7 linked regions of the Homo sapiens genome follow. The protein of the gene in region 2 purifies or fractionates together with the protein of the main gene of each other region. This does not show direct contact. Each region holds a gene or a part of one and is shown on either strand. Other genes may lie near its edges.

Region 1 (3,500 bases), on a different chromosome or scaffold from region 2:
TCTGATATTAGGTATGAGGTTAATTTCCAAAATGGAATAGAATGTGGTGGTGCCTATGTGAAACTGCTTTCTAAAACACCAGAACTCAACCTGGTATGTAATTCCCATTTCTGGAATGTGGCTGGACACCCACTATTACCTTGTAAGAATTTTGTAATTGGGCCGGGTGCAGTGGCTCACGCCTGTAATCCTAGCTCCCAGCACTTTGGGAAGCCAAGGCAGGCGGATCACGAGGTCAGGAGATTGAGACTATCTGGCTAACATGGTGAAACCCCATCTCTACTAAAAATACAAAAAATTAGCCAGGCGTGGTGGCAGGCGCCTGTAGTCCCAGCCACTTGGGAGGCTGAGGCAGGAGAATGGCATGAACCTGGGAGGCGGAACTTGCAGTGAGCCGAGATTGCGCCACTGCACTCCAGCCTGGGCGACAGAGCGAGACTCCATCTCAAAAAAAAAAAAAAGAGAATTTTGTAATAATTGTGAAAATAAAGGCTTCCTCCCCTGCTGTTTAACTCTTTTGATGAGTTGGGAAAATTGACTTTGACGCTAACGTGCTTTTTATTTGAAGTGTAAATTACAAAGTTGTTACCAACTGTTTTTATCTGAATTTCTGGTTTTGCTTCTGTGTAAGTTTTAGTTTTGGCAAGCTTATTTCTTTGTTTTATGAGGAAGCAATAACTGTCTAGATGTGTGCATTACTTTTTTTTAGACACTTAAACGTTATTTTAAATTTACTGATGATTGCTGGTTATTCCTTTTTACTAAACAAACTTGTAGTTAGCTTTTCCTTTAACTGTCACTAATATATTTGGAATTTTATAAGAGGAATTATCATACACTTTTGAAACGTTGCTTTTGAACACTTTGAGTACAGTGACTTCAAATAATCCTTTTTTGTTTTTGAAGGATCAGTTCCATGACAAGACCCCTTATACGATTATGTTTGGTCCAGATAAATGTGGAGAGGACTATAAACTGCACTTCATCTTCCGACACAAAAACCCCAAAACGGGTATCTATGAAGAAAAACATGCTAAGAGGCCAGATGCAGATCTGAAGACCTATTTTACTGATAAGAAAACACATCTTTACACACTAAGTAAGAAAAAGCATTAGTTTGGGGGCTTATGGTATTACATATATATCATCCATTTAATTTAAAGATTGTATATCTGGCCGGGCACTGTGGCTCACGCCTGTAATCCCAGCACTTTGGGAGGCCGAGATGGGCAGATCACCTGAGATCAGGAATTCGAGAACAGTCTGGCCAAAATGTTGAAACTTCACCTCTACTAAAAATACAAATATTAGCTAGGCATGGTGGTGCACGCCTGTAACCGAAGCTAGTTGGGAGGCTGAGGCAGGAGAATTGCTTGAACCTGGGAGGGAGCCAAGATCATTGTGCCACAGCATTCCAGCCTGGGCGAAAGTGAGACTCAATCTCAAAAAAAAAAAAAAAGGCTGGGCGCGGTGGCTCACACCTGTAATCCCAGCACTTTGGGAGGCCGAGGCGGGTGGATCACAAGGTCAGGAGATCGAGACCATCCTGGCTAACATGGTGAAACCCCGTCTCTACTAAAAATACAAAAATATTAGCCGGGCGTGGTGGTGGGCACCTGTAGTCGCAGCTACTTGGGAGGCTGAGGCAGGAGAATGGCACGAACCCGGGAGGCAGAGCTTGCAGTGAGCCGAGATCGCGCCACTGCACTCCAGCCTAGGAGACAGAGCAAGACTCCATCTCAAAAAAAAAAAAAAAAGATTGTATATCTGGAGAGTACCCCAGCCTCCAAACAAGAAGAATCTCAGCCTGGTATGGTTGCTCATGCGTGTAATCCCAGCACTTTGGGAGGCTGAGGCGGGCGGATCACTTGAGATCAGGCATTCGAGACTAGCATGGCCAACATGGTAAAACCCCGTCTCTACTAAAAATACAAAAATTAGCTGGGCGTGGTGTTGAGTAGCTGGTGTAATCCTAGCTACTCGGGAGGCTGAGGCAGCAGAATTACGTTAACCCAGGAGGCAGAGGTTGCAGTTGAGTCAAGATTGTATCACTGCACTCCAGCCTGGGTGGCAGAGGAAGATTCTGTACCCCCTCCACGAAAGAAAAGAATCTCTTCACTTTAGTATCTTAGTTGGGAAATGACCTTAATTTGTCAGCATTAAAAGAAGCTTCTTGGCCACGTATGGTGGCCCACACCTGTAATCCTAACACTTCGGGAGGCTGAATCGGATGGATTGCTTGAGTCCAGGAGTTCCAAACCAGCCTGACAACATAGTCAGACCCTGTCTCTACAAAATCTTAAGAATTAACTGAGTATAGTGGCATGTGCCTGTAGTTTCAGCTACTCAGGAGGCTGAGGTATGAGGATTGCTTGAGCCCAGGAAGTCGAGACTGTAGTGAGCCATGATCTTGCCACTGCACTGTAGCCTGGGTGACAAAGTGAGATGCTGTCTCAAAAAACAAAACAAAAAACCCAAAAAACTTCTTTTCCACAGGAACTGAGGTTCGAGATAATTTTAAGAATAGAATAGGTGTTTTTGGCCAGGCATGGTGGCTCGTGCCTATAATCCCAGCACTTTGGGTGGCCGAGGTGGGCGGATCACCTGAGGTCAGGAGTTTAAGACCAGCCTGGCCAACATGGTGAAGCCCCATCTCTACTAAAAATACAAAAATTAGCCGGGCATGGTGGAGGGTGCCTGTAATCCCAGCTACTCAGGAGGCTGAGGCAGGAGAATTGCTTGAACCCTGGAAGCGGAGGTTGCAGTGAGCCAGATTGTGACACTGCACTCCAGCCTGGGCGACAGGAAGACTCTGTCTCAAAAAAAAAAAAAAAAAAATTGGTATTTTTTGCTGGACATGGTGGCTCATGCCTGTAATCCCAGCACGATGGGAGGCTGAGGCGAGCAGATCACTTGAGGTCAGGTGTTCAAGACCAGCCTGGCCAACATGGTGAAACGTCATCTCTACTGAAAATACAAAAATTAGCCGGGTGGGGTGGTGGGCGCCTATAATCTCAGATACTCAGGAGGCTGAGGCAGGAGAATCACTTGAACCCGGGAGGCGGAGGTCACGGTGAGCCAAGGTCATGCCATTGCACTCCAGCCTGGGCAACACAGTGAGACTCCGTCCCCCACTCCAAAAAAAAAGGTGTTTTTTTTTTTTTTTTCTACAAAGAGCTTTGCTGATCTAATTTCTTCCTTTTTTTTGTTGTTGTTGTTGAGAAATGTTGAATAATAGAATAAGTTATATTTATAATTATACATAAATCCAATAAAAATAGTTTTTCAGAAGTATCTTGTAGTTGAACTTATTTGGATGCTCCAATACCTGGACAATTGACAATTGAGTTGAATCATTTTGATACAGGGTTTTTTTTGGTTTGTTTGTTTATTGAAGCTTTTCCTGCTAGTTTGAGATCATAAATAGGCATGCCTCTTTCTGAAGAATATAATAACCTTTTTTTTTTTTGAGATGGAGTTTCACTCTTGTTCCCCAGGCT
Region 2 (3,500 bases):
CACACCAGATGGCACACCACTAAACAGCATTCTCCAAGAGCCAGTGATCAAAGTTCATTTGCCCCAAACCCTCTCAAATCACTAACCATTCACCCTTTGATTTCTCATTCTAGCTTGCTCCCGCTCTGCAGTCTGTCCACAATCTTTCTCAAAGGGGGCAGGACAGGGAGCACCAATGTAAAATATCTTCCCTTTATTGCTCTTCTGTCTGTAACATACCCCAGCATAAGAAATATGCTATAAACATGAAGGAGGGCATGGGTGCAAAAAGGATGTGTTCATAAGTGCTCCAGCTCATAAGCCCAGTTCAAAATTGGGTCTAGCTAGACATAAGATGAACCAAATATCTCACCATTGATCAAGAAGAAGAAGGCTCCAGTCTCATTTGCTACAGCTCGAGCAATCAGGGTCTTTCCTGTTCCAGGAGGTCCGTAAAGCAGGATTCCTCTAGGAGGCTGTGGACCAATGCAGAGTGTGATTAGGTTCCCACCTTCTCCCAAACCCTAAAATGGCTTGACTAGCGCTCCAGAGAGGGTGAGAATCAGGCTTCAACCCTGACAATATTAAGAATAAGCCCTCCGCAGTAAATGCTAAGAAGACAATTACTTTAGGCCACACTCATTTCTATTACTAGCAGGGAAAATACTGCTAGAAAGTGGGCAACATTTATGATTGCAACTTGCATAGGAGACTAAGGGCAGAGAAACTGTAGTCCAAATGCGTTTGAAGATACATGACTAGGGAAAGGCAAGAGGCCATTACACTAAGGGCTCAATTTTAGACAGACCAAGGGCCAAAGACTAGCTAAGCCATTTAAGAGAGCAGGGTCTATTTTCTTCATTGCCAGAGGATCACTCACTCCAGTAATCATGCCCTCCAGAATTTATCACACTGGAATGCTGTTCCTTACAATCATCATTTTTCTTCTTCAACACTACCCTTTCTATGGCCTCATCCACAAGCAGAACATGTAAACTGTCCACATAGAAAATGAAATTATTTGTGTGCCACCCACTAGGAAAATGAGTAACTTCATCTTCAGTGTGTTCCATGGAAACACTTTCCCACTAGGAAAAGATTGAGAAGCTACACTCTAGACCAATAGTTCTCAAATGTTTTAGACTCAGAACCCTTTAACACTCTGAAAATTTCCTTAACTTCCTTACTTCTACTGGGTGACATTGCTCTAGACAGGCTGGCAAACTATGGTGAGATTTGTTTTTACAGGGTCCATTGATACAAGAATGGCTTTTATATTCTAAGAGTTGTAAAGAAAAACCCATATATATATGTGTGTGTGTTTTGTGCGCACACGCACACAACAGACAATTTGATTAGCCTACTCTGGTTTTAGACCATCAGCTCTAATGAATTTAGAGCCTTAGGTAAACTAAAGGATACGTTATTGCCCCTCTAATCCAAGGCAATAATGAAAGCCATGCATGAAAACAGTCCCAGGATTAGACATTGGGACAGGATTAGACATTGGCACCACTTTAGACTTGATTCCAGAGCCCAGGATGCTCACCTTCACACCAATTGCCTTAAAGAGGGCAGGATGTCTCAGGGGCAGTTCCACCATCTCCTTTATCTGAGCTAGCTGCTTCCTGCAGCCACCAATGTCATCATACCCTACTTCATTCAAGGACTCTTCCTCATCCTGAATATGGAGGAGATAAAGAAAGGAGAAGGCAAGAATATTATATCAGCAAAAGCTGAGTTTCTCTAAATCATTCCACTACCTAGTGTGCAAAAACCTACCGTATAAGAAGATTCTCAACCCGGCATGGTGGCTCACATCTGTAATCCCAGCACTTTGGGAGGCAGAGGTGGGAGGAATGCTTGAGTCCAGGAGTTCCTGGGCAATACAGCAAGACTCCATCTCATTAAAAATTAAATTAAATTTAAAAAAGATTCTCCTCTAAAGGGATCCGGCCTCAAAGAACAACTACAAAAATCCCAAGGCAAAGATTTCTAGCACAGTCCTTGCCTCTCACATTACTCGTAGTCTTACTGAGAAGGGGTCTCTAAAATCTGAAGCTGGAAACCCTGGGAATGGGCAGAGGCCTGAAGCCACCATCAGCTTTACTTCAAAAATGATTTCAATCACTTATATATTTTGGGTTCAGTCTAGTTTTTTGAAATTCCTGGCATTAGGTAAATCCAAGAAACAATTAGGCCCAGAAATGAATAGCTGGCAGGTTTCTCATCCCTGAAAGATGGTTAGTTCTCCAAAGAACACCCAGTCTTTTTCTTTTTTGAGACAGAGTCTCACTCTGTCACCCAGGCTGGAGTGCAGTGGCACAATCTCAGCTCACTGCAACCTCCGACTCCTGGGTTCAACCGATTCTCCTGCCTCAGCCTCCTGAGTAGCTGGGATTACAGATGTGTACCACCATGCCTGGCTAATTTTTGTATTTTTAGTAGAGATGGGATTTCACCATGTTGCCCAGGCTGGTCTTGAACACCTGACCTCAAGTGATCTGCCCATCTCAGTCTCCCAAAGTACTGGGATTACAGGTGTCAGCCACCGCAGCCGGCCGAGCACCCAGTCCTGACAGTTACCACATGATGCCACACTGAGTAATCATAAAATCGGATACTGGAATCAGGGAGAAAACTCACCTCTCGTTTGATAGGCTCCCCTTCGCAGTGGATCACTGTGTCTGGAGCAACAATGCAATAAGGGCTAGGATCTGTTTCCACCACTTTGAACTCCACAGCACGCATCCCACCACGGACAAGAAAAATGTCTCCTGCGAGAGCAAACAGTACAAGCACAGTTAGAGGTGTCAACTACAAGACAAAGTGAGAACTCATCAGACCCTGGGGTCAAAATGCCAAGCTCATTAGATAGTGCCCTTCATTAGATATTGCCCTACCTCTCCCCAACTCCACCCCACCTGTCTTAATAAGCAGCAGGCAAGATGAGAAAGGTAAACTGTGAAGAGTCCCTCTGACAAGAGGTCAGTGAACAAAACCTGACATGTCAGAAGCCCATCAAGTTCTGACTTCTGCCATATAGGTAGCCCAAGTTTTCACTACAACCACCAATGGTAGAACTGTGCACTCTGGACCCTGACCCAGCCAAAATGGACCACTTTCTCCTTCAGAGATCCATAAAGATAGCTTACTCTCCTGGAACAGAGAAGGGGAGAGATGGAGCAAAGGAAGGATGGAGGAAAAAAAGAGGGTAAGACATATGAATATGTGTGCAGGGTTTGCATGTGTGTGTATACAAATATATGAAAATGAGTCTAGCGGCCGGGCACAGTGGCTCACCTGAGGTCAAGAGTTCGAGACGAGCCTGACCAACATGGTGAAACCCCGTCTCTACTAAAAACACAAAAATTAGCCGGGCGTGGTGGCAGACGCCTGTAATCCCAGCTACTTGGGAGGCTGAGGCAGGAGAATTGCTTGAACCCAGGAGGCGGAGGTTGCAGTGAGCCGAGATTGCACCACTGCGCTCCAGCCTGGGGGACAGCGCGACACTCTGTCTC
Region 3 (3,500 bases), on a different chromosome or scaffold from region 2:
TTTCAGTAGAGATGGGGTTGCACCATGTTGGCCAGGCTGGTCTCAAACTCCCAATCTCAGATGATCCGCCCACCTTGGCCTCCCAAAGTGCTGGGATTACAGGCGTGAGCCACTGCACCTGGCCCTGTTGCAATGTTTTTCCAGGGAGGGAAAGAGTTATCTGCATTTCAGCCTGTTCTGTTTTGGGAGTACTGGGGCTGAGGAGAAAGGGCAGGGCCATCAAAGGGCTCACATTGTTATTGTAGTCCGTGGTGGCAGCAGCACCCAGAACCTCGTAGTAGCGCTGCAAGAAGGGCTGGAGGCGACTCTCCAGCCGCTGTAGCTCCTGGAGCACCTCGACATACTCCGCAGGGGAAGGATGGCTGTGGACAAACCCAAGGGGCAATGAGCCAAAGCCTTCCTCAGATTCCCACCCTCACAGTCAACAGGGACCACATGTGCCCTCTTTCTCCCTGGTCTCCCAGAGCCCTGGCCCAATCCTTCTCTGGACCAGCAGAGCTTCTATTCTCTTCAACCTCCGCCTCCCAGGTTCAAACGATTCTCCTGCCTCTGCCTCCCAAGTAGCTGGGATTAAGTTGCCTGCCACCACACCCGGCTAATTTTTGTTTTTTTTTTTTTTTTTTTTTTTTTGAGACAGAGTCTCGCTCTATCACCCAGGCTGGAGTGCAGTGGTGCGACCTCAGCTCACTGCAAGCTCCGTCTCCTGGGTTCACACCATTCTCCTGACTCAGCCTCCCGAGTAGCTGGGACTACAGGTGCCCGCCACCATGCCCAGCTAATTTTTTGTATTTTTAGTAGAGACGGGGTTTCATCATGTTAGCCAGGATAGTCTCGATCTCTTGACCTCATGATCCACCCGCCTCGGCCTCCCAAAGTGCTGGGATTACAGGCGTGAGCCACTGTGCCCGGCCTGTATTTTTTAGTAGAGACAGGGTTTCACCATGTTGGCCAGGCTGGTCTCGAACTCCTGACCTCAGGTGATCTGCCCGCCTCTGCCTCCCAAAGTGCTGAGATTACAGGCATGAGCCACTGCACCCAGCCAAAGCTTCTATTCTTTACTCCCACCCATGAGAGGATAGGGAGAAGAAAATGAACTGCTCCCACCCTCCCCACCACAATCCTGCACCTACAATGGTGAAAGACTAATTCTAAGAAAGAGAGCAGGCCTTCGTGAACTCAGAGGAGAATTCCGATCAGGCTCAGGAGATACCATTTGGATTTCCTTGCCGTAGGGAGAGCAGCAGTTCTTCTCAGCTGCCTGTCCTAGCGTCATTTACCTATACCGAGAGAGCCCCTCCTCGCCCCTCAATGCTAACCCTTCAACTAAGACCTCCAAGTAATCCTTTCCCTCCCTTGCCATGGTTCATTTCCTTCTCCCCATACTTCACTTAGGATTCCCCACCCACTAAAGATTCCCTCCATCTCTCACTTGGGTGCATTTGTTTCCGGGGCAGGTGTTGGGCCCGCTGGGGCTGGGCCAGGAGTGAGCTCCGGGTTCTGGGCTGGGGCACGCTCCTCCACTTCTTCTGCCTCCATGGGCTCCCGGGGAGGTGCTTCACTTTCAACTGGTTCTGATGTTTGAGAGCTCAAGGCTACTGGCTCCGGGGTCACAGCCGGTGGCTGCGGGGGCGGCTGACTGTGCTGCGGTTGGGGCCCTCCTCGACACTGAAGGTAGGGGAGAGTCAGGATACCAAAGGCAGGGTAAGACTGCTGCAGAGGATTACTCTACAGGAGACTGAACAGAGAAAGTATCCTAACTAGACTCCCTGAAGGCATGGCTCTGCAATTTTATCTCCGACTCGCTAGCAACTAGCATAAGACTGACACAAATTAGATGCATAATAAGCATCTGTAATTTTTTTTTTTTTTTTTGAGACAGAGTCTCGCTCTGTTGCCCAGGCTGGAGTGCAGTGGCATGATCTCAGCTCACTGTAACCTCCGCCTCCCAGGTTCAAGAAATTCTCTTGCCTCAGCCTTCTAAGTAGCCAGGCCTACAGGCGCGTGCCACCACACCCAACTAATTTTTGTACTTGTAGTAGAGACAGGGTTTCACCATGTTGGCCAGGCTGGATTGGAACTCCTGACCACACGTTATCCCCCTGCCATGGCGACCCAAAGTGCTGGGATTACAGGCAGGAGCCACCACACCCGGCCACAGCATCTGTAATATTTGTAAATAAATTTCTAACAAAGAGTAGAGATTGTGGTTTCCTTTCCTCCACAAGTTGGTTTCCCAGCCTCCACAAGTTAAGAGAGTAGAATCCTTTAATTGAAAAGAGATGCCATGAGACTAAGTCTGAAACAAACTCCCCAGATACCAGGCACCAAGAGGATTGGCAGAAATGAGAGAGCCTCACAAAGATACTTTTTCTGCCCAAAAGAATGAATACTGCAGAGAAGACTAGATTATGAAGGCCAAACCCTGTGGATGTGGCCAGTGAAGCCCTAACTCCCAGGCTGAGAGAAAAGGGAGAGGGAGGGTGGAGAGAGACCCTAGCCAGCCTTGCCCACTTACCTCCATCCGGGATAGTAAGGTCTGTATATCCCTGATCATGTGCTGAGCCATCACCAGCCGTACCCGGGGCTCACTCTACAATGAGAGAAGGTTTATCAGGGTAGGTTACAGATGAAGCCATGAGTTCTACCACCTACTAAATCAGGTCCCAGCCATCTCTCAGCCAGGTCCACCCCACCTCCCAGCCTCCTTCTCCCAGATCCCCTTCCCTGACCCTCGGAGGCCCCTCAATACCTGAATCGGGGCCTGTTCCATGTTGATGTGAACATCCACAGCAGAGCCGTCACTCTGGGGAAAGGGTAAGGGAAGTTGTTCTGGGAGAAGCCAACACTAAGGCCTCCACACCTCCAATTCATTCCCTGGAGCCCTACCTCCTTTTCTCCTTAAAGACTGAGACCAATAGCACACCACAGGGCCCCCTGAACCCAATCTAAAGATGGAAGCATCTATCTTATTAATTCCCTGGTGCTACCACAACCAAAGCTACCCACAAAAGCCCTCCCCTGTGGAACATAAGCTTACAGGAAGATTGAAGGTTCCAACCATGACATAGCTGTTGGCATTCCGGTCATGAACAGAGGCCCCAGGCCCCCGAGTACCAGGGGGGGATCCCCCACCATGAGTGGCTGAGGCAGACCCCGTCCCAGAAGATGCCCCAGAAGGGAGGTGAGTCTGAGGAGGAGCCCGTTCCACCAGGTGGATAACCTTTCCCCCAACATCTGCAGAAAAATAGACACACACCAAAACATAGTATGAACAGGTAAACCCATGGCCTCAGTTCATCCCTCCAGACAGTAGCCCCAACCTCTGAACTGCCTCCCCAGCCCCCTTACTGTATTCCTGAAGCTTCTTATCATCTTGCAGAACTCGTCCCTGGTAAATGAGCCGTTGTTTTTCAGATGGGATGCTGACAGAGGCAGCAATGTGCTCCTTAAACTCTTTTACATTCATCTGAAAAGAAGAGGCATGCACAGGAATGGAAAGA
Region 4 (3,500 bases), on a different chromosome or scaffold from region 2:
TGAATGTGGTCATACAGTAAGGAACTGGTACAGCCGGATCCTGACACAGCCTGACTCCAGTACCAGGGTGTTAGAACTTTGGCTATTCTGTTGTTCCACCTCAGAAAGCAGCTGCCAAATCTTTACAAGACATCCACTGTACCAGGCTGGTGGTCCTGGGCCTGCCCCTTAGGACCTCTCCAACTAAGAAACTGCCCTGTTCTGTGGCCACAGCAAGAGAACCAGAGGCTGCCTTCCCAGTTACCAAAACTTGAGCCCTGTATGCAAGCCCAGGCCTTGTGATTCCTCTGCCTAAGGCAATAGTTCATCTTAAAATAGTCTTAGCAAAGGTTTTTCTGCTCAAGGACTTGATTGTGAAAAGTTGTTCTGAATCACTTAGCACTTAAAAGCTTTTTTTTTTTTTTGGAGACAGGGTCTGCTCTGTCATCCAGGCTGGAGTGCAGTGGCCTGATCATCAGTCTTGAACCCCTGGGCTCAAATGCAAATGGTCCTCCCACCTTGGACCCCCAAAGTGTTGATTACAGGCGTGAGCCACTGCGCCTGGCCCAGAAGAGTTTTAAAATTGCAATTGGAGTAGCCATAGATTTATAGAAGTCCTCTGTAGGTTTCACCAAATGTGAACACTAAATGAAACTTTCGCAACACTAAAATGAAACTTTTTTATTTTGCAGGCTGACCAGTGCACCGGTCTTCAGGGCTTCTTGGTTTTCCACAGCTTTGGTGGGGGAACTGGTTCTGGGTTCACCTCGCTGCTCATGGAACGTCTCTCAGTTGATTATGGCAAGAAGTCCAAGCTGGAGTTCTCCATTTACCCGGCGCCCCAGGTTTCCACAGCTGTAGTTGAGCCCTACAACTCCATCCTCACCACCCACACCACCCTGGAGCACTCTGATTGTGCCTTCATGGTAGACAATGAGGCCATCTATGACATCTGTCGTAGAAACCTCGATATCGAGCGCCCAACCTACACTAACCTTAACCGCCTTATTAGCCAGATTGTGTCCTCCATCACTGCTTCCCTGAGATTTGATGGAGCCCTGAATGTTGACCTGACAGAATTCCAGACCAACCTGGTGCCCTACCCCCGCATCCACTTCCCTCTGGCCACATATGCCCCTGTCATCTCTGCTGAGAAAGCCTACCACGAACAGCTTACTGTAGCAGAGATCACCAATGCTTGCTTTGAGCCAGCCAACCAGATGGTGAAATGTGACCCTCGCCATGGTAAATACATGGCTTGCTGCCTGTTATACCGTGGTGACGTGGTTCCCAAAGATGTCAATGCTGCCATTGCCACCATCAAAACCAAGCGTACCATCCAGTTTGTGGATTGGTGCCCCACTGGCTTCAAGGTTGGCATTAATTACCAGCCTCCCACTGTGGTGCCTGGCGGAGACCTGGCCAAGGTACAGAGAGCTGTGTGCATGCTGAGCAATACCACAGCTGTTGCCGAGGCCTGGGCTCGCCTGGACCACAAGTTTGACCTGATGTATGCCAAGCGTGCCTTTGTTCACTGGTACGTGGGTGAGGGGATGGAGGAAGGCGAGTTTTCAGAGGCCCGTGAGGACATGGCTGCCCTTGAGAAGGATTATGAGGAGGTTGGAGCAGATAGTGCTGACGGAGAGGATGAGGGTGAAGAGTATTAACCTGTGTGCTGTACTTTTACACTCCTTTGTCTTGGAACTGTCTTATTTTTGTTCTGTAAATGTCTATTGCCGTAAATTGTTAATAAAATTGAAGTTTCCATTTTAAATGTCGAGCTGACTTAAATACTTGATCCAGTTAAAGTTGGATGTATGAGGCTGGTAGATGAAACCACCTGAGTCGAGGGTCTTGCTCTGTCACCCAGGCTGGAGTGCAGTGGCATGATAATACATAGCTCATTGCAGCCTCGAGCTCCTGGACTCATGTGATTCTCCTGCTTCAGCCTCCTAAGTAGCTGGGGACTGCAGGTGCACACCACCATGCCCAGCTATTTTTATTTCTTGTAGAGATGGGGCCTTGCTATGCTGCCCAGGGTGGTCTTCAACTGGCTTCAAGTGATCCTCCTGCCTCAACCTCTCAAAGTTTTGATTATAGGCATGAGCCACTGCCCAGCTTCTTGGTTTATCTGTTTAATTTGGGCCTGAATTAAGTGGTTATAGAATCATTTTGTAAGTGAGGAAACGGGTTCAGATTGAGCCAGTGCTTCTCTAACTAAAATGGATGTGAATCACCTGTAGATATTAAAATGCAGGTTTGGGGTCAACCTGGTGGCTCATGCACTTCGGGAGGCCAAGTTGGGTGGATCACGAGCCCAGGAATTCGAGACCAGCCTGGGCAACATGGTGAAAACCCATCTCTACCAAAACAAAAATTTGCATGCTGTGATGGCACCTGCCTATAGGTGGGAGGACCACCTGAGCCCAAGGAGGTTGAGGTAGTGAGCCATGATTGCACCACTGCATTCCAGCCTGGGTGACGGAGACCCCTGACTCTCAAATTTAAAAACAAAATGCAGGTTCTAATTCTATAGGCTTGAGGTGAGGCTTCAGACACGTCTTAAATTTTTTTTCTTTGAGATGGTCTCTTTCCCAGGCTGCAGTGCAATGGCACCATCATAGCTCACCCCCACCTTGACCTGGGCTAAGCCATCCTCCCACCTCAGCCTCCCAAGTAGCCAGGACTACAGGTGTGTTCCACCATGCCTGGCTGATTCTTGTAATTTTTTTTTTTTTTTTTTTTTTTTTTTTTGGTAGAGATGGGGTTTTGCCATGTTGCTTAGGCTGGCCTTGAACTCCTGGGCTCAGGCAATCCTGCCTCAGCCTCCCAAAGTGCTGGGATTACAGGAGTGAGCCACTACACCTGGCCCCTAGATACGTTTTTTAATAACCTCCCAAATGATGCTGTTGGTCTGATGTGACCACATGTACAGTAGCAAAGGGTTAGATAACAGTAACTGCTGGAGCCAAAATTCAAGTGCCCAGCCACACTGCCAGAACTATTGCTGTCAGTCTTTAATAAAGTATTAGTCACACGAGAAGGGCTTGGAATCCTGATTTATTCCATACTTAGCTAAGACCTACAGTGGCAAAGATGGTTCGTACTAAAGGGGTTATTGTTTAGAGAAAGTGGAAATGTCAGACAAAATAACAGTCACCGGTTTTTCTGGTATTGGCATTTGACCCAATTGTATGTCATGGAGATTATTTGAAGTAGGAGTAATATGTATGTGTAGGAAAGATTGGAGAGGGGTGAGTTCTCTGATTTGGACTTTTTTCCAAGCACCTGTTGGAGGACCGTGGTTCTTGGGGGCAGACGGGTGAAGGGGCATGAGTGTTATACGTAGCTGGAGAGCTTGGTGCCTGGTACTCAGTTGAACTAAGCAATGGGAAAGGACAATGACCAAAAGGTGAAGCTTCATGCAGAAGGGAGGAATCAGTTTTGGTGCTTGGGTGCTTGCCTGAGTGGGAATGCCTAATGAGTGGTAGCAGATGGGCCCTGGGGGCAGAGTTGCAGGC
Region 5 (3,046 bases), on a different chromosome or scaffold from region 2:
AAATTAGAATGAATACTTAATATCCTCCTTTTAAATCCATACCAAAAACAAGCCCCAAATATATTTACAACCCTGGAAATGATGTGTACTACTTTTATTTAAAAAAATAAGAGTAAAGGAACTAACTAGATGTATATGGTGCCAATTTTTAAAAGTCTTGCTTAACTCCACAGGTCTCAAAATAGCTAATAAAGAAACCATGTCTCCAATCATTTCAATACAAGCTGTAAAAATGCCTTAAAAATCTCAGGTCTGGCATTACTTCCATTTAAACGCATCAAGATAAAAGTTCACTGAAACATCAGCTGCCACCATTACTTTAGGAATCTTTATCTGTTTAGGGATTTTTCCCCTAGACTATTATAGCCAGTTTGTCAATCAAAAGTAGCATTCAGTATGCTTAACTTTCATTATCAAAAAAGTGATCTGCTAAGAAGTGACAATCAGATTAAATCCAAGAAGTCCTTGGATTTTGTATTTTACAAGAATTCAACTTTCCCAATTAAGTCATTAGTCATTAAGATAAGTACCCTTCCCAAATGTGATTCAACAGCCTGGTTTTTAGCAAATAAAAACCCCATATAAAATTCAATTTAAAAATTATAAACACACAGGGGTGTGCACACAGGTCAGAAACCAGGAAACACATGACAATAAACATGATCCTATTTGATTGTTTTTATGACTTTTAAGAAGTGAGCATGAAAATAAATCTTTATTTTCAGTTATTACCCACCAATAAGAGAAAGTTAGGTTCACAGTTTTAGCTCTTGACACAAAGTGAACTAGGAGGCAAATTTATATCCATCAGATACAACTAATGCACCAACTTTTTAAGTTCAGGCTATCTTGAAAGCTTGCAACATACCAGATATTGCTATGTTGTCTCTCACGACAGCAATGGATGACACTGAGAAGTTGTGTTTTGAGTAGCAGGTGTTTTCTATAGTATGTTGCTGGAAATCAAGAGGTTTATAAAACATGGTACATGTTTGGAAATGAGTTAGATACTTGAAAAGTCTAAACACACTGATTTAGGAGTGCGTATGTTGCTGTCTCAATGAACAATGGGTCAATAGTTCATATGGACTAAATTAATCTCTGGGTAGCACGTATGTGTGTAAATATAAAATTATATTAGACATTAGCACCAGTGCAGAACATGCTCAGCATCATAAGATCCAAAACACCAGCACAAGTTTATCCATCATTAAAAACAATTACCTCCTTCCTAAAATGTCAGAATAGTAGGTAACTGAGATTAATAAATCTTATCCAAAAAGTAACTCTTATAACATAAAAGTTTCTTTTAGAAGTATATGTGAGAACCAATCAGCTAAATAGAAATGTTTAAGATTGAAGATGTCCAATATTTTTAAAACTGGACATTACCATATACAGGTAGAACATTTCTAAAAATGACGTGACAAACAATTCTTAAAAATTTTTTAAAAATTCCTTCACTGTTTATCAATAAATGTGGCAGAATAAAAGACAATCCTAGAAAACTTTTTTAATTCATCATTCTATGTGTGTTTTAATAAGTGGTGATGCTCCCATTATAGGAATCCATTATTTACCTAATTTTCTAATGGAGGAAGAGAGAAGAGATAATTACCACTTTCTGTGGAATACTCAACTTACAACCAAATAATAGCAATCTAGGAAATTTAGAAACAGTAAAGGTTTTTGGTTTATATTTCATGTATAGTGCTGCTGTTCCAACCTTACAAAGTAAAGCTGTCTGCTTCCCAAATTCCAAAAATTAAAATACTCCCCCACCTCACCCTACCAACCAGCGCCCTTTGGTTTTTGTTTTAGAACAAGGAAGGGTTAAATGGTGGCTGATTATGGATGTACCATTTTGATTTTGGGACCTTTCACACACAGAAATCATACCAAATGGCCAGACACTTATTTTACAGAACAGTTTAAATATTACACATTGGCCAAATCAACTTATTCCACCCACCCTGGTGAAGGGGGAGAAAAAACCCATACCTATAAAACTACTTCACTTGACACGATGTGCCTACCAACAATAAGTAGTTTAAACAACTTTCACCAATTAAGATGTCTAGTTTAGATTTTAAAATGGGAAACTCAAGCATTTAAAAAGTAAATATAGCTGAAAATGTAAATCAGTTATAATTTGAACCTAATGAGCCATGCAAGGAGCAAGGGTTAATAAACCAAATGTGCTTTGAATTTGTTCAAGTACTGATATTTCTGTATATAAAGATTTAGCATATATATATAACAGCTATCATGAGAAGTGAAAAAAGATTTTTCCCCAAAAATGAAAATATTAAAACTAAGTTAAAATACATATAGTTAGTATTCCACACAGCATAAAATTTGACAAATCAAAGTTTAACATGTCCCAGTTGACCATGTGTGAATATGCAAAGCAGGTATTAAAACCAGTATGTCCAATATTTAAAACCAGTTTGTAATTGGGGGAACTTCTAAATCCTTAATTAAAAAACACAAATGAAGTGAAAGCTTTAAACTGGTACACACTGTTCACACCTATATTTCAAGTTTGGAAATGCATATTTGCAAGCAGCAATACAAAAGTATTCATGAAGAATGCATAATCTCTGAAAATTATGAAAACATCCCTGCTACCAATACATTTCTAAATACAAAACTGACTACCATATTTGTTACTTCTGTGTAGCGGGAGAAGTTCATTTTTAAAACAGATAAAATTCAGTCTTTAGGTGTGAATGGTATGAATGACAGTCTTTTTTTTTTTAATTTCTTAGTCGTTTGGAATCCTTAAGCATGCAAAAGCTTTGAACAGAAGGGTTCACAAAGGAACCAGGGTTGTCTTATGGCATCCAGTTAAGCCAGAGCTGGGAATGCCTCTGGGTCATCCACATCAGGAGCAGAAGCACTTGACTGAAAAAGAAAAACCAAAATTAACCACAGTTCTCAGTTCTTCAAAATTACATTGTTAGCTAGTGTCTACATTAAGACAGAACTCTAAAAAAATCTTACTGTTGGCCAGGCACAGTGGCTCACACCTGTAATCCCAGCG
Region 6 (3,500 bases), on a different chromosome or scaffold from region 2:
AAATACAAAAATTAGCTGGGCATGGTGGCGCGAGCCTGTAGTCCCAGCTACTCGGCAGGCTGAGGCAGGAGAATCACTTGAACCAAGGAGGCGGAGGTTGCAGTGAGCTGAGATTGCGCCACTGCACTCCAGCCTGGCAACAGAGCGAGACTCCATCTCAAAAAAAAAAAAAAAAGAAAAAAATCTTAACAGCTGCTAATTTCCCTCACTCAGTCGAAAGAATTAAAGGAGAGGATATGAATTACCTTTTTCAGCAGAGAGTTTACTAACATCCATGGTCTTATTTAGTACTTTGATAGCTAAAGCAAGTGCTGACTTCAAGGTCATTTCTCCTTCTTTATAGTCTTGTTTCAACATTGACACAGCTGCCTATAAAACATGAATCAACATAGAATTTTAAGTTTTTACATTTTTTAGAAACATGAATTGGTCTAGAAGAAAAATGCCTGAATTATTATTGGCATTACAAGTATAAACAATTTTTTTTTTTTTTTTGACACAGGGGCTCACTCTGTTGCCCAGGCTGGAGTGTAGTGGCATGATCTCAGCTCACTGTATCTTCAAGTCTCCCCAGGCTCAGGTGCTCCTCCTCCCACCTTGGCCTCCTGGGTAGCTAGGATTACAGGCACATGCCATGGCGCCCAGCAAATTTTTGTATTTTTTGTAGAGATGGGGTTCTGCTATGTTGCCCAGGCTGGTCTCGAACTCCTGAGCTCGAGCAATTTGCCTGCCTCGGCCTCCCAAAGTGTTGGGATTACAGGCATGAGCCACCATGCCTGGCCCATATACATAATTTTGATGACAGGGAGGGCACACACGGCACGGGGTGAGAAGAGGGGGTACTAATGCTCTATAAAGAGTGTCTTTAACCTGGGGTCCTCAGTCTCCCAAGGGGTCTGTCATAGAATACAGGGGGTCTGTAAACTAGATGTGAAACAAAATCACAGCTTCTAATTTCACAACTCCTAACTGAAAATTAGCATTTATTAATGTAGTTAACGAACCCCAGTATATTAGCTATATCAGCAATGCTGTCACCAACAGAAATCACAGATATTTCCATATCACATTAAGGTTGTTGCAGCTATCTTAAAATACTGTTTACATTCATCACCATGGCAAAATTATGGCAGTTATTAGACATTCTGCTAGATTTTATAGCACAACAAAAATACTCACAGCGCTATTATTTCCAATGCATGTGGCCTTCCATCCCCCGTAATTTCCACTAGGGTCACTCTGATAGAGCTGAAAGCCATAGTGCTTATCCCAGCCAATGTACAGCAATGAAACACCAAAGGGACGTTTTCCTTTAACAAAGAAAAAAAGCCAAACATATCAATAATCTAAATTTAGTATCACTACAGTTACTTGAGCTCAGTGAAGGTAGCTAAACCCTACTCTGTGAACTTAAGCATTCATAAACTGTTTTGTATTCTGGCTACCATAGATAAGCTCCATTACAAATTCGACTTTTGTTTCTACGATTTGGACACAGCCAGAAGAGGGAACAGACAAAGGACCAGTGCTGAATTTCATTATTATGTAAACAGCAGTTAGTTTCCAGATTTGAAAATGTTGTTTTGGACTTTCAATATCCTATTAATAAAACGAGGGTAATCTACATGGTGGAGGAACACGTTCATTCATGAAGCAAGAATGTATGAAATTCTAGTGTTCTATACTACTGTAGGATTAATATAGTTAACCATAACATATTAGTTTCAAATAGCTAGAAGGATATGGAAGGCTCCCAACACAAGTGTTTGAGATGATGAATGTGCCATTTACCCTGATCTGATCATTATGTGCACTGAAACATCATTATGTACCTCATGAATATGTACAATTCTTATTTGCCAATTAAAAAAATTAAATTTAATTTAAAACAAAGGGTCTATTTTCAATTTTTTACTACCTCAAAAGGGTTATAACTCATAAAATGTCTTAACTTTTTCGAATAAAATTTTCAAAAAAATTAAATACCTCCAAATTGTGTATAAGCTTGTTTGATATCACACAGCGCTGTAACCAACTGCTCACAAGGTATTGGCTCCTGATACTGTAATAAATACCTAGGATAAAGAGATGGGCACATTAGTAGTTTTCTCTAAAACACAGACAGACTCTAAGGAAAATATTCTCTGAAAAGCAATCTATGCCATGGGGACAACCTAACAGTCATTTGTAATTTGAAGGGGAGGGAACAAGTCAACATCTGAATATTCTCATAGTAAATAATATTTTGTAAGTTTGGTTGAAAAAAATCTGTAATTTTCAATTCAAAGATTTTTAATGACTTTAATCTTTGCAAAAGTGAGCTCTCCTTAGAAACATCAAAACTAGGCCAGGTGCAGTGGCTAATGCCTGTAATCCCAGCACTTTGGGAGGCCAAGGCAGGCGGATCACGAGGTCAGGAAATCGAGACCATCCTGGCTAACACAGTGAAACCCCGTCTCTACTAAAAATACAAAAATTAACCCGGTGTGGTGGTCAGCTACTTGGGAGGCTGAGGCAGGAGAATCGCTTGAACCCGGGAGGCGGAGGTTGCAGTGAGCCAAGATCGTGCCACTGCACTCCAGCCTGGGTGACAGAGTGAGACTCTGTCTCAAAAAAAAAAAAAAGAAACATCAAAACTAATTTCTGTATCATCAGTTATGCTATTTATGACCATACCTTTGAGCAATGAGCCTTAGTTCATTAGTCAGAACATTAGCATCAGAAGTTATGCCTGCCACACTGCAAGCCATGTCCCTTGAAGAAAAAAAGACATTGATCTGTAAGCAGGGAAGATGCTTGCAAGGAGTGTTTATAAGTATTTAAAAAATTCTAATTTCTATTAGAAATTCACTATGTTTGCTTCACAACAGCTACTTCCTTCAGAAAAAACCTACAAGTTTTATCTTTGTAGGAGATGTTTACTCGATGTCACTCAACATGAAAGATAAACAAATGCACCCTTTAAGTTATTTAATAGATGTATTTATCATTACCACCTATGAATAGGATAACAAAATTAACGCCAAGAAGCTAATGTAATCTCAAGAAGATTCAGCAACAAAGAATAAAAAGACAGGCTTGCCACAATGGCTCACGCCTGTAATCCCAGCACTTTGGGAGGCCGAGGTAGATGGAGGGCTTGAGCCCAGGAGATCAAGAACAGCCTGGGCAATACGGCAAAATCCCATCTCAACAAAATATACAAAAACTAACTGGGTGTGGTGGTGCGCACCTATAGTCCCAGCTACTTGGGCGGCTGAGGTGGGAGGATCACTTGAGCCCAGGAGGCAGAAGCTGCAGTGAGCCAAGATGGCGTCACCGTACTCCAGCCTGGGTGACAGAGCAAGAATCTGTCTCAAAAAAAAAAAAAAAAAAAAGATTTTGCTAGACAGACTGCTCTTGAGTAATATTCATTTCCTAAGGCCTGGCTTGACAGAGGTGACAGGGGACAATGGCAGGAGGGTTTACAAGCCTGCTTAGGAAGTACAGGGCTAGGCTCC
Region 7 (3,500 bases), on a different chromosome or scaffold from region 2:
CGGAGTGGCACTGATACATGCTCCAGTGACCCAAAGGCTGTGGGATGGCAGCGGAGACTTCTCTTTCTTGGGAGCGGCAAGATGCTTGCCTATGGCATAGTTGTCATCTCCTCCCATCAGGGAAGAACCAGTCTCCATTTCCTGGTGTGGCAACATGTCACCACAGGATAGATAAATGTTCATTAATGGGTAACAGTCAAGCTAGCTCCCCAAATTGATTCCTGCCATTCTTAAATATTACATTACAAAGGGGATGGAGGATGAAGAAATGCTACTGTGGTTTAAACCTCTCCCTTCTCAAACATATAAAGTGCAAGAAGTAAGGATACAGCGGGGTTTTGTTTTGTTGTGTTTTTTGAGACAGAGTCTCACTCTGTCACCCAGGCTGGAGTGCAGTGGCACGATCTCGGCTCACTGCAACCTCCGCCTCCCAGGTTCAAGCGATTCTCCTGCCTCAGCCTCCCAAGTAGCTGGGACTACAGGCGCACACCCCCACACTTGGCTAATTTTTGTAATTTTAGTAGAGACGGGGTTTCACCATATTGGTCAGGCTGGTCTTAAAACTCCTGACCTCAGGTGATCCACACGCCTTGGCCTCCCAAAGTGCTGGGATTACAGGTGTGAGCCACCGCGCCCGGTGGGATACAGCAGTTTTAAAAAGTGAGGCAGCTCTGCCTGGCCGCCCCACCGACTGGGAAGTGAGGAGCGCCTCTGCCCGGCCACCCAACTGACTGGGGAGAGAGGAGCACCTCTGCCCACCTGCCCCACCGTCTGGCAAGTGAGGTGTGCCTCTGTTGGGCCACTGTGCAACCCTCCAAGTGTGAAGTGACAGCCTTGTGTGTGATCTTTCTGCCCTCCCCAAGTTTGCATTTTCCACATTAAATTTTACTTTTTCATTAAAAAAAAAAAAAAAGTGAGGCAGGCCTTGGCCCTGTCAGAACAGTGTCCTCACTAAAGGGTTTCTCCTTACTGAGCTGCCCCACAAAAGGTCAGGTGCCCCACAGCAGCCTACCTGAGGGCAGGCAACCCCTTGAGAAGCTCATTGTATTTATTATTATTATTTTTTGAGACAGAGTCTTGCTCTGTCCCCAGACTGGAGTGTAGTGGCACAATCTTGCCTCACGGCAACCTCCGCCTCCTAGGTTCAAGCGATTCTCCTGCCTCAGCCTCCTGAGTAGCTGGGATTACAGTCACCCGCCACCACGCCCAGCTAATTTTTGTATTTTTAGTAGAGATGGAGTTTCACCATGTTGGCCAGGCTGGTCTCGAACTCCTGACCTCTTAATCCACCCATCTCAGCCTCCCAAAGTGCTGGGATTACAGGCGTGAGCCACCGCGCCTGGCCATATTTATTTTTTTTTAAAGATGGCATCTCACTCTGTTACCAGCCTGGAGTGCAGTGGCATGATCACAGCTGACTGTAACCTTGAGCTCCTGGGCTCAAGCAATCCTCCTGACTCAGCCCTTTTTTTTTTTTTTTTTTGAGACAGAGTTTCACTCTGGTTGCCCAGGCTGGAGTGCAATAGCACAATCTTGCCTCACCACAACCTCTGCCTCCCAGGTTCAAGCGATTCTCCTGCCTCAGCCTCCTGAGTAGCTGGGATTACAGACACGCACTACCACATCCGTCTAATTTTGTATTTTTAGTAGAGACGGGGTTTCTCCATGTTGGTCAGGCTGGTCTTGAACTCCTGGCCTCAGGTGATCTGCCTGCCTTGGCCTCCCAAAGTGCTGGGATTACTGGTATGAGCCACTGCGCCCGGCCAACTCAGCCTTTTAAGTAGCTGGGACTACAAGTGTGTGTCACCATGCCTGGCTAAATGTTTTTTTCTTTTTGTGGTAGAAATGGTGTCTCACCATATTGCCCAGGCTTGTCTCAAACTCTTGGCCTAAAGCAACCCTCCTGCCTCAGTCTCCCAAAGGTGAACCACCACACCAGGCCAAAATACACTTTTAAGAGGTAAACGTTCTGTGAGATAGAGTTGTCACCGAAGTTACTAACTCATTCTATGTATTATCCACCCACGACCCAGTAAATTGATGCAAGAAATAGTTTTGTCAAGAGAAATGATTTTAGGCTGTAATCTCAGCACTTTGGGAAGCTGAGGCGGGTAGATTAACTGAGGTCAGGAGTTCGAGACCAGCCTGGCCAACATGGTGAAACCCCGTCTCTACTACAAATACAAAAATTAGCTGCTGCCGGGTGCAGTGGCTCACGCCTGTAATCCCAGCACTTTGGGAGGCCAAGGTGGGCAGATCACCTGAGGTCAGGAGTTCGAGACCAGCCTCAACATGGAGAAACCCCGTCTCTACTAAAAATACAAAAAAAATTAGCCGGGCGTGGTGGTGCATGCCTGTAATCCCAGCTACTTGGGAGGCTGAGGCAGGAAAATTGCTAGAACCTGGGAGGCGGAGGTTGCAGTAAGCTGAGATTGCGTCATTGCACTCCAGCCTGGGCAACAAGAGCGAAACTCAGTCTCAAAAAAATAAATAAATAAATAAATTGCCCGGATGTGGTGGTGCATGCCTGTAGTCCCAGCTACTCAGCAGGCTGAGGCAGGAGAATCATCTGAACCTGGGAGTCGGAGGCTGCAGTGAGCCGAGATTGCACCACTGCATTCTCACCTGGAGGACAGAGTGAGACTCTATTTGGAAAAAAAAAAAAAAGAGAGAAATGATTTTGGAATCCTCAAATAGAGAGATCAGGAACTTCCATCAATCAGAGACCTTACAGAGGCAAGGGCAGAAGGAACCTGCCAAATTAAGCAAACAAGGGATAAAAAATCCTAGAGCCCAAGATGGAGGCCAGAAGACGAAGAGTTAACAAAACTCAAGTGGTGTCAAGAGGCAGCTGGTGAAGTTCCTGCCTATGCTTTAGAAAAGCATTTTTCAAACAGAGTACTGATCAACAGTGGGTCAGGAAATCAATTTTGTAGGTCATGACCAGCATTTTAAGAGACCAAATGGGACAAAAAAATACCAGCACACAGTGCACATAACAGTAAATACTGTTTTGCTGAATGTGTTACATGGCTGTACGCCTGTGTTGGGTTAAATGTAAGAAGTGTATCATTGTGGGATTTGAAAGGCCCCTATTGAAAAAAAAAAGCCTGAACATTCAAAATCTGTCCAACTTTTTTTTTTTGGAGATGCAGTTTCGCTGTCATTCAGGCTGGAGGGCAGTGGCGCAATCTTGGCTCACTGCAACCTCGACCAGCCAGGTTCAAGCAATTGTCCTGCCTCAGCCTCCCACGTAGCTGGGACCACAGGCGCGCACCACAATGTCCGCTTATTTATTTATTTTTTTTTTTTGAGACGGAGTCTCGCTGTTACCCAGTCTGGAGTGCAGTGGCGCAATCTCGGCTCACTTCAAGGTCCGCCTCCCGGGTTCAAGCGATTCTCCTGCCTCAGCCTCCCAAGTAGCCGGGACTACAGGCGCGTGCCACCACATCCAGCTAATTTTTGTATTTTTAATAGAGACAGGGTTTCACCATATTGGC

What was found.
Region 1: the proteins of VCP (region 2) and CANX purify together in Homo sapiens (affinity purification with mass spectrometry; 4 studies listed by BioGRID, with this or other methods). This does not show direct contact.
Region 3: the proteins of VCP (region 2) and BAG6 purify together in Homo sapiens (affinity purification with western blotting; 4 studies listed by BioGRID, with this or other methods). This does not show direct contact.
Region 4: the proteins of VCP (region 2) and TUBA1C purify together in Homo sapiens (affinity purification with mass spectrometry, with the first as the bait; 3 studies listed by BioGRID). This does not show direct contact.
Region 5: the proteins of VCP (region 2) and SERBP1 purify together in Homo sapiens (affinity purification with mass spectrometry; 3 studies listed by BioGRID). This does not show direct contact.
Region 6: the proteins of VCP (region 2) and PSMA4 fractionate together in Homo sapiens (co-fractionation; 5 studies listed by BioGRID, with this or other methods). This does not show direct contact.
Region 7: the proteins of VCP (region 2) and STIP1 purify together in Homo sapiens (affinity purification with mass spectrometry; 4 studies listed by BioGRID, with this or other methods). This does not show direct contact.

Annotation. Positions count from the first base shown.
Region 1 is NC_000005.10:179,708,967-179,712,466, forward strand, and holds part of CANX (calnexin isoform d precursor), read left to right. Parts: intron 1-11; coding exon 12-93; intron 94-906; coding exon 907-1,099; intron 1,100-3,500. UniProt on the Homo sapiens protein: Calcium-binding protein that interacts with newly synthesized monoglucosylated glycoproteins in the endoplasmic reticulum. It may act in assisting protein assembly and/or in the retention within the ER of unassembled protein subunits.
Region 2 is NC_000009.12:35,062,626-35,066,125, forward strand, and holds part of VCP (transitional endoplasmic reticulum ATPase), read right to left. Parts: intron 2,757-3,500; coding exon 2,626-2,756; intron 1,661-2,625; coding exon 1,529-1,660; intron 456-1,528; coding exon 353-455; intron 1-352. UniProt on the Homo sapiens protein: Necessary for the fragmentation of Golgi stacks during mitosis and for their reassembly after mitosis. Involved in the formation of the transitional endoplasmic reticulum (tER).
Region 3 is NC_000006.12:31,646,162-31,649,661, forward strand, and holds part of BAG6 (large proline-rich protein BAG6), read right to left. Parts: intron 3,467-3,500; coding exon 3,349-3,466; intron 3,235-3,348; coding exon 3,038-3,234; intron 2,804-3,037; coding exon 2,750-2,803; intron 2,591-2,749; coding exon 2,516-2,590; intron 1,666-2,515; coding exon 1,430-1,665; intron 363-1,429; coding exon 233-362; intron 1-232. UniProt on the Homo sapiens protein: ATP-independent molecular chaperone preventing the aggregation of misfolded and hydrophobic patches-containing proteins.
Region 4 is NC_000012.12:49,271,582-49,275,081, forward strand, and holds the end of TUBA1C (tubulin alpha-1C chain), read left to right. Parts: intron 1-671; coding exon 672-1,646; 3' UTR 1,647-3,019; downstream 3,020-3,500. UniProt on the Homo sapiens protein: Tubulin is the major constituent of microtubules, a cylinder consisting of laterally associated linear protofilaments composed of alpha- and beta-tubulin heterodimers.
Region 5 is NC_000001.11:67,410,357-67,413,402, forward strand, and holds part of SERBP1 (SERPINE1 mRNA-binding protein 1), read right to left. Parts: intron 2,908-3,046; coding exon 2,851-2,907; 3' UTR 1-2,850. UniProt on the Homo sapiens protein: Ribosome-binding protein that promotes ribosome hibernation, a process during which ribosomes are stabilized in an inactive state and preserved from proteasomal degradation.
Region 6 is NC_000015.10:78,543,444-78,546,943, reverse strand, and holds part of PSMA4 (proteasome subunit alpha type-4), read right to left. Parts: intron 2,755-3,500; coding exon 2,677-2,754; intron 2,076-2,676; coding exon 1,987-2,075; intron 1,311-1,986; coding exon 1,180-1,310; intron 370-1,179; coding exon 246-369; intron 1-245. UniProt on the Homo sapiens protein: Component of the 20S core proteasome complex involved in the proteolytic degradation of most intracellular proteins. This complex plays numerous essential roles within the cell by associating with different regulatory particles.
Region 7 is NC_000011.10:64,189,171-64,192,670, reverse strand, and holds part of STIP1 (stress-induced-phosphoprotein 1), read right to left. Parts: intron 1-3,500. UniProt on the Homo sapiens protein: Acts as a co-chaperone for HSP90AA1. Mediates the association of the molecular chaperones HSPA8/HSC70 and HSP90.